Regions from separate parts of the Homo sapiens genome. Here region 2 is linked to region 1. The links come from fine-mapping of genetic effects on gene expression. A gene starts in region 1. The other region holds a variant in brackets. All regions are shown on one strand. Distances are from middle to middle.

Region 1 (4,380 bases):
TGCTTGTCACGCGCATAAAAAGAGCATGTGTGTGTGCGTACATGTTAATAAAGGCATACAAAATGGTGGACCATCAAGGTTTACTACATATTTTTGTATAGCTTGAATTGTTTACAAGAAGAATGCATATTAATTAGCTTTATTTAGACCTCTGGGGAAAAGAGAAGACTGCATCTTGTGTAATTAAAAAAAGAAATAAATAACATCCACCTCCAAGGAAGTTGAATGATGCTTGTTAAAGTGCAGAGCAGAAGCCACCAACCAAGGTAAGAAAGCCGGGTTGTGCTCCGGTATGTGCGCTAGGAGGCAGCGGAGCTGAGACCGAGGCCAGGCGGCTAGAGAAACCGCGAACCAAGGACGGGGGGGCTGGGTCTTTCTGGTCGCCAGGGGGCAGAAGTGTAGGGCAACTTAAATCCGCAACTACCCGCTGTTGCCCAGGCTCCAACGCCAGGCCGAGCATTTCAGAAGTCATAAGTTCCATCTCTCTGCCGCAGCCGAGACAGATTGGAGGGTTTTCAGAGTCAAGGGGATGCCCCCCCGCCCCCCGCCTCAGAGAAGCTTGGCACTCTGAACAATCTCAACCACTCTCCCCTCTGCTCCTCCCTTCCCTACCCCCCAACACCCATGAAGGGGAAATTGAGTCATGGGAGGAGAGGCCAGAGTCATCAGGGGAATGAGGGCCGACGCCAGCCCTCAGGGCCTTCCAGATGCTAGGAGGAGGAGGGTTCTCCAGGAAAACAAACAGGGGTGAGAGGGGAAGGCGGTTGGCTGGGCAGGAGCTGAGCCAGACACATGGAGAAACGCTGCCCAGGATCAAAGGAAATATGACATTTGAAAAGAATGTGTGCGTCTGCATGTGCTGTGCCTGCGGGGAGTGGGGCCGGGGAGGGGCAGAGTCTGGGGGAACAGGGGCTGGGCCTCGGGGTCTCTATCCCTGCTTTTCTCGCCTCCGCTTCCCACCTCCCTTGCCCTCTTAGGTACAGGCTGGTTGATGGGTCGAGGTGTTCCTCGTCCTCCCTCCCCGTGGGTTTCTCCTTCCTTTATTTCCGAGATGAAGCTGGAAGGGAAATGTAACCTGAGGAGACCAACCAAAGGAAAAAAAAGAAAAAAAAAAGAAAAAAAAAAAAAAGAAAGAAGAAAATCAAACCAGGCCGCTTCCCCGCTCGGCCTCGGAACATTCTTCTCTCCCCGCCGGCCTGGGCTCTTCTCCCCGCCCCTCCTGTGTTGCGGCCCTGGGCTCGGAGCCGGGGCAGCTCCGCACGTCACTGGGGTCCCCGGGGACTGGGGGGGTGGTCCCCTGGGCGGGCCCGAGGGAGGACCGAGGGGAGGGAGGGAAGCCGCCTCGGCCGCTGCGGAGCTCCGGCCCGTCGGGCCAGCCCTCCCTTCTTTCCCCAGTCCCGTAGAGCCTGTTTCTCATTAGAGTAACGGGCGCGGTCCCCGCCCGGCTTCTGAGTGTTTGTAAACGTCTGACCTGGGGCCGTCGCTTAACCGTTTAGTTGCTGGGATGGGGCGGCGTTGGGGGTGCGGCCCTGAACCGGAGGGATTTAGAGACTGGAGACGCGGCCTCTAAGAGAGGTTGAAACTGTGTGTGTGTGGGAGAAAATGATAACCACCCTCCCATCTCTCCTACCCGCCAGCCTCGCCAGTATCTCCCACCGAGTCACGAATCTCCCATCTAACTCCCTCTCACACAACCCAGGCCTCTCCAAGCCTGACTTTCCCGGAAACTCCAGTCCAGGTCTTCCTTCCTCCTCCAGCCCAGGTGACAGGTGTCCAGCCTGTTGGGGGCGGGGGGGCCAAGGAGGGGGAAGAGGAGGGGAACCCACAGGGTCCGGAGGTTTCAGGCCCCTAGTAAACCTGGCAAGGATTTTTAGAAGAGCCGGAGTGGGATGCTATCGGGTCAGAGATTCATTCCAGACTACAGTTCTAGGGAGGAGGCTGCCAACTTCCCGTGGAGGCTAATTCACGGCCCCTCTGGGTGGCTGGGACAAGGGCAGCGGCAAAGCCTGGCCTGGATCTACGCCCATCAAGGGCTGTGGGCCTAGGGACAGTTCTCAAAGCCTCTTTGGCTCGGACTGCTCCCAGAGGCATCCAGGCTGGCTAAGCGTTCTTCATCTTTGGGGGTCCTGGAGGAATGGCTGATGGAGGCGCTGATTCGGCAGCGCAAAGACTTCCAGAAGGCCCGGGCAGAGTAGCCCCAGGCAAGGGAGGCGGAAGAATAGCCTTTTCCTCTTCCGAGCAACTCGGTGCCACTCTGCCCCCAGGACCCTCCTGGCCTCAGGCTTGGAGGGAAAGGGGAGGAGAAGTGGTTCTGCCTTGCTAGGTGCTATCTACACAGTCTTCAGAATTTAAAAAAGGGTCTTCCGTGGGCTCTCTACCCTGGGGGCCCAGGATGTGGCCCCTTTAAGGCTCTCGGACCCAGAACCTTGAACTGAGACTAGGGGAGGTGGGGGCTGGGCTCTCTGCGGGAAATGATTGTCACAACGGCGGACCAATAGGCAACATTAGTATCACTCTTGAAGGACCGTTTTCCAATTCAGTTTTTTTTTTTTTGAGGGGGAGGGACTGAAGAGAGGACAGAGGGAGGGAGGGTGGGGGAGGACGAGGGGCGCGTGGTTTTCCCATCTCATCCCTGGAGGAGGGGCTGGAGCATCCCCGGCAGCCAATCAGGGACAGGCTGGGGGGGGGACCGCTTTGAAGAAGTTTGGGGGAAAAAAGTTTGGAAAAGTTTCTATAATAACGAGGGGGCTTCTGGAGGGAGGCGGCAGCGACGGAGGAGGGGGCTTCTCAGAGAAAGGGAGGGAGGGAGCCACCCGGGTGAAGATACAGCAGCCTCCTGAACTCCCCCCTCCCACCCAGGCCGGGACCTGGGGGCTCCTGCCGGATCCATGGGGGCGGCCAGCTGCGAGGATGAGGAGCTGGAATTTAAGCTGGTGTTCGGGGAGGAAAAGGAGGCCCCCCCGCTGGGCGCGGGGGGATTGGGGGAAGGTTAGTGCTGGGCTGGGAAGGGGTCTTGGGGTCAGTGAGAGGAGGGCCGGGGATCCTGAGTCTGGGGAATTTAAGGCAGCGAGCCTAGGGTGGGGGGTGAGGGAGTCAGAGGTCGAAGGGAGTCGGGGGGACTCGTTGGCCTGCGGAAGTGAGGCTGGGGGCCCGGGCACCACTTTCTCCTTTTTAGGTCGTGACTGGGGTGGGGGTGGGGGTGCTGTTGGCTGTGCGCCGCCTCCCGGCTGGGCCGCCTGTCACTGAACTGGGGGGCGGGCGGGAACTACGGCCCCAACAGCACCAGGCGCCGCCAGGGGAAGGGGAGGTTTGGCGCTGGAGCTGGCCCCTGGCGGACCGAGCTCTGGCCCGGCCGACTGGACGCCCGGGGCTGGGGGCGCTGTCAGGCCTCGCTGGGGCGCCCCTCCCCCTCCCCCGTCTGGCCGCAATGAGAGGCAGATGGCGGGGACCGAGCCGGGGGCGGCGGCCGCCGCTCGCACGAATCCGCGCTGCCCGCTGCCCCCCTTCCCCCGGCTGGGCCCAGCACGCATCACCCCCTCGGCTGCACCTCCGCCCCTAGATGGCGAGGAGAGAGGGAGGAGCCACCTCCCCTCGTCACCACAGCCCTGACGCCCCCCTCCCCTCTGGCCACGGTTGCGATGGCAACTGGGGCTCCTGCCAGCGCCGTTTGGGGGTTTGGGAACCGCTGCTAATTGGGTTCATGTGTGAGTCGCCCCCAGTCCAGCCCAGTGCCTCAAGAAACACGCCTCCAGGCCCAGCCCCAGCTCCAGCCCCTCTGGACCCACCTCTCTCACCTTAAGACCCACTGGATCGGGTACCCTCGGTCCTAGGATCCAGGGGCCAGTGGGCAAAGGCCTGGCATGCCTGCTTCAATCTCCTCCATCTTCCCAGGTCCAACTCTGCTTTTGTCTTGTGGCTCAGAAGGTCTCTTTGCTGAGGGGCAGGGAGCATAGAAGGACTTGCGGCCTGGCCACTCAAGGAACATAGCCATCTCACCTGCTTCTCTCTTTCCCCCTCTCCCTCTGCTCCTCTTCCCATTTTGACAGAACTGGACTCAGAGGATGCCCCGCCATGCTGCCGTCTGGCCTTGGGAGAGCCCCCTCCCTATGGCGCTGCACCTATCGGTATTCCCCGACCTCCACCCCCTCGGCCTGGCATGCATTCGCCACCGCCGCGACCAGCCCCCTCACCTGGCACCTGGGAGAGCCAGCCCGCCAGGTCGGTGAGGCTGGGAGGACCAGGAGGGGGTGCTGGGGGTGCTGGGGGTGGCCGTGTTCTCGAGTGTCCCAGCATCCGCATCACCTCCATCTCTCCCACGCCGGAGCCGCCAGCAGCGCTGGAGGACAACCCTGATGCCTGGGGGGACGGCTCTCCTAGAGA
Region 2 (4,380 bases), 22 kb after region 1:
CTTGGAGAGAAGTCTTCTTCATCCCTGATGGCAAAGGGCAGAGGAAGAGAGACGCCCAAGGGCTCGATCAGCCTTGGTACCTTGCCAACCCCCAGTCCCTAGCATCAAAGGTTTTTCCAAGACAGAGTAGGTAAATTTCAATTTTATTTTATTTATTTATTTATTTTTTTTTGAGGCAGAGTCTCACTCTGTCACCCAAGCTGGAGTGCGATGGCACGATCTCGGATGACTGCAACCTCTGCCTGCCGGGTTCAAGCAATTCTCCTTCCTCAGCCTTCCTAGTAGCTGGGATTACAGGTGTATGCCACCATGCCTGGCTAATTTTTTTTGGCATTTTTAGTAGAGGTGGGTTTTTGCCATGTTGGCCAGGCTGGTCTTGAACTCCCGACCTCAGGTGATCTGCCCGCCTTGGCCTCCTAAAGTACTGGGATTACAGGCATGAGCCACTGTGCCCAGCCTCAATTTTATCTTGTGTTGTTTTTGTATTATTTTCTCCATCCTCAAAACTCGGACACTTCCTAACTTAGCACCCATTGGCTACTGCTCATAGTCCTGCCTGGTTTGGGGTTTCCCAGTTTGGGGTGGATCTGGCTACACTTCATTTTCTGCCTCCATCGAGACTCCCTATTGTTTCTTTGAGGTTCCATTAGGTCAAGGCAAACACTTCTCTTGTTCTCCCAACATGTAGCAAAATGTCACAATTCTTTTTGGCTCCGTTGTTCATTAGCCACTCCATTTCGTTATTCTATTTGCACTACTTCATCATTGAGCAAACTTTTTTTTTTAATAAGGATTTGTGATGGTTAATTTTATGTGTCAATTTGGCTGGGCTAAGTGATGCCCATAGAGCTGGTAAAATATTATTTCTGGGTACATCTGTGAGAGTGTTTCTGGAAGAGATTAGCATTTGAATTGGTAGACTAAATGAAGATCTTCCCTCATCAATGTGGGTCCACATCACTCAATACATTGAGGGCCTGAGTAGAACAAAAAAGTAGAGGAAGGGCAAATTATCTCTATTTGAGCCCAGTCGTCCATCTTCTTTTACCCTCGGACATCAGAGCTCCAGGTTCTTGAGGGAAGGGCACACATAGATTAGTGTTTTCTGCACAATCAGTTCACTCACTTCTCCTTGTCTGACCCATGAATGTGTCCGTATCTTTTGAGGTTCATTGGTTCAGATGCTACAGACACCACCCTTCCCCAGGCTGCTGAAATGACTTTCAAACTTGGACTGAATTACACTACTGGCTTTCCTTGTTCTCCAGCTTGCAGTCAGCAGATTGTGGGGCTTCCTGACCTCCATAATCACATGAGCCAATTCCCATAATCTCTCTCTCTGTCTCTCTCTCTGTTTCTGCTATTGGTTCTGTTTCTTTGGAGAACCATGACTAACACAGGATTATAGAAACTGCAGGAGAAAATGTTAGTGCCTGTTGGGATTAGAAAGGCACATACGATAAAGCCCTATCCTCAAGGCTGCTGCAGCTGTGATAGGAGCTCCTCTTACAGCTCCATTTATTTGTTCACAAAGGATTTACTATGTGTTAATTATCAGGCAATGGTAGGCACTCAGGATACCAAGATCAACAAGATATGATTCCTGTCCTCAAGCAGTTCACACCTAAGAGATCACTAACTGGTGACTTGAGGCATTTGATTGGCAAGATGCCTTAATTATTTCTCTTTGTTATCTATGGCTGTGTAACAAATCACCCCAACTTAGTGGCTTAAAACCACAATAATTTACTTTTCCTCACAGTTCTGTGGCTTAACCTGGTGATTCTCCTCCTGGTCTCACCTGGGCACACTCATGTGGTTGCATTCAGATGGCAGTTTAGCTAGTTGGTCCTAGACAGCCTCACTCCCAAGTGTGAAGCCTCAGCTGGGGCGGCTGGAATGGCTGAGATGAGTTTCCTTCTGTCTGCCCATGCGACTTCTTTCTGCCGGTATCTCAATTTCCTTCCTTCCGGCTATCCTGGGCCTCTTTACACAAGAACAGAGCATTCCAAGAGGCTCAAAGTCAAAGTTGCAAGACTTTTTGAGGTCTCGACTCAGTGTTACAAATGTTACTCCCACTGCATCTTATTGGCCAACACAAGTCACAAGGCCAGGCTAGAACGGGGAGGAGGGGGAATAGAATTCATCTCTGATGGGGGAGCAGCAATGTCCCATTGTAAAGGGTGGGCAGATAGAGATGGGAGGAATTTGTGGCCATAGGTTGCAGTCTACTACAGCTGCTACAGCGAAACAAAATTAGATTTCACAT[A/T]AACGTCAAGTTTACAATATTTTTTCCTTAACAATGGGGAGATTTGGCAACAAGCCACTGGAGCTGAGTAACTGCTGTGCCATTTAGACTGGACGTTCTATCTCTAGCCCATCATAGTCTCTACCACTTCTTTTTTAAAGAGTTGGGTTCTTGCTCTGTTGTCCAGGCTGGAGTGCACTGGCATGATCATGGCTCACCGAAGTCTCGACCTCCTGGGCTCAAATGATCCTCCAGCCTCAGCCTTTAGAGTAGCTGGGATTACAGGCACTCACCACTCCAGCTAATTTTTTTTTTTTTGGTAGAGGTGAGTTTTGCTTTGTTGTCCAGGCTGGTCTTGAATTCCTGGCCTCAAGTGATATCCTCCTGCCTCGGCCTCCCCACTACTGCTTTATTTATTTATTTTTTTAGATGGAGTTTTGCTGTGTTGCCCAGGCTGGAGTGCAGAGGTGCGATCTCAGCTCACTGCAACCTCCGCCTCCCGGATTCAAGCGATTCTCCTGCCTCAGCCTCCCGAGTAGCTGGGACTACAGGCATGCGCCACCAGACACAGCTAATTTTGGTATTTTTAGTAGAGACAGGGTTTCACCATGTTGGCCAGGATGGTCTCAGTCTCTTGACCTCCTGATCCGCCCGCCTTGGCCTCCCAAAGTGCTGGGATTACAGGCGTGAGCCCCCGCCCCCACCCCCACCTATCGCTTTTTAAAGGTGAGGAAATTGGGATTTCCAGGGCTAGGATGTAGTAGTCTCTGGGCTACCGATATCAGAGTCTGTTTTTAACTACTGTATTCAACTGCCATCACCAAATGGGTTCTATGGATAATTACATGGGAAACCACTGCTGGGGAGTTACTAGAAAAGTTTGAGTAAGCTCATGCCACAGAGCAAGTGATGCTCTTCAATTAACTAGGAGTCTGGATTCAGAGCCAAATAGGGGTGAGGGAGGCGAATGGTCTGGTGGCTGCTAGATCAGTTTGAAAGTCATTTCAGTAGCCTGGGCCAGGGAGGTGTCTGTAGCATCTGAACCAAATGAAACTCAGAAGATATGGACACATTCTTGGGTCAGACAAGGAGAAATGAGCGAACTGGTTGTGCAGAAAATACTAATCCAAGTGTGCCACTTCCCTCTGAGAAACTTTGTAGGCTCCCTCCTGCCTATACCTGCCAGTCTCAGTGGTAACACATTGTTCTGTTAAAAAAAAGAGGCTGTAATGTAAGCTATGGACTTCGGTTGTTAATGTTGGGTCAATGTTGGTTCCTCTATTCTAACAAAAGTATCACACTGGTGCAGGATGTTGATAGTGGGGGGAGGCTGTGCACATGTGGGCACTGGAGGCATATAGGAAGTCTCCTTTCCACTCAGCTTGGCTCTAAACTTAAAACTACTTTAGAAATAAATTCTATATACACAAAAAGTGGAGGAGGAGGATGGTTTCTGAGGTAAGTTTAGGAAACTTAGGTAAATAAGTTGATTTTTAAAAAAACTGCGGGGCTTACAGCATTGCTTTTACTTCATAACAATATAGTCACAAAACATAATTATGCAATTGCTTTTTTCAACTTTGGACGCAGGCTCCGTGACAGCAGGGCACTTACTCATTGATGTATCGCCAGCACCTAGAATGGTTTGGCACATGGTGGACACTTCTTAGTACAAGGAAGAAGGGAGAAACAGTCAACTCGCAGGACTTAATGATTGACTGGCTGAGAGAAGTGGGGGGCAGTTAGCTTCAGAGTGGCTTTGGTTAGTCATAACCTTGCTAGAGACTTCCCAGAGCTCCCACTCCCTGTCCTTCTCTGCTTGACTACTAATGGCCTGAGACCCCTCAGCCTCCATGGGACCAGCTTTTGCCCTCACCCTGCCATCAGTGGCTCCTAGGCATGTGCCCTTCATCCACCGTGCTCACTGACCCTCCTTCAGCCCTCCAGCCTCCTGCAGATACTCCCCCCAAAAGCCCCTTCCGCACAGCTTGGAAGCCCAGCCCAACACCCTTCGAGCCCTGAAACATTGTTGCTCCTGTTTTTCTCTTCATGAATCACCCGAAGTGCAGCAGTGCCTCATGGTAGTAAATATAGGTAAGTGTTGGAACCACCAGGGTCCTCTGGTGTCCTTG

Evidence for each region. PIP is the estimated chance that this variant, and not a neighbour inherited with it, causes the effect. A credible set is the group of variants that fine-mapping cannot tell apart.
Region 2: its variant is the best candidate, but not a certain one, in a credible set for the expression of NFATC4 in whole blood (TOPMed, PIP 0.65).

The regions. Positions count from the first base shown.
Region 1 is chr14:24,365,453-24,369,832 of GRCh38, forward strand. It overlaps NFATC4 (nuclear factor of activated T cells 4), which reads left to right and starts at 2,732. Exons shown (of 10, transcript NM_004554.5): 1 at 2,732-2,988; 2 at 4,047-4,380. The coding sequence starts at 2,889. LOC124903291 (a long non-coding RNA gene) reads right to left here and starts at 3,933. Exons shown (of 2, transcript XR_007064085.1): 1 at 3,795-3,933; 2 at 64-1,075. RefSeq lists silencers at 1,163-1,472, 3,191-3,570.
Region 2 is chr14:24,387,344-24,391,723 of GRCh38, forward strand. It overlaps LOC124903292 (a long non-coding RNA gene), which reads right to left and starts at 2,066. Exons shown (of 3, transcript XR_007064086.1): 1 at 1,802-2,066. The variant A/T (reference allele first, on the strand shown) is at 2,270.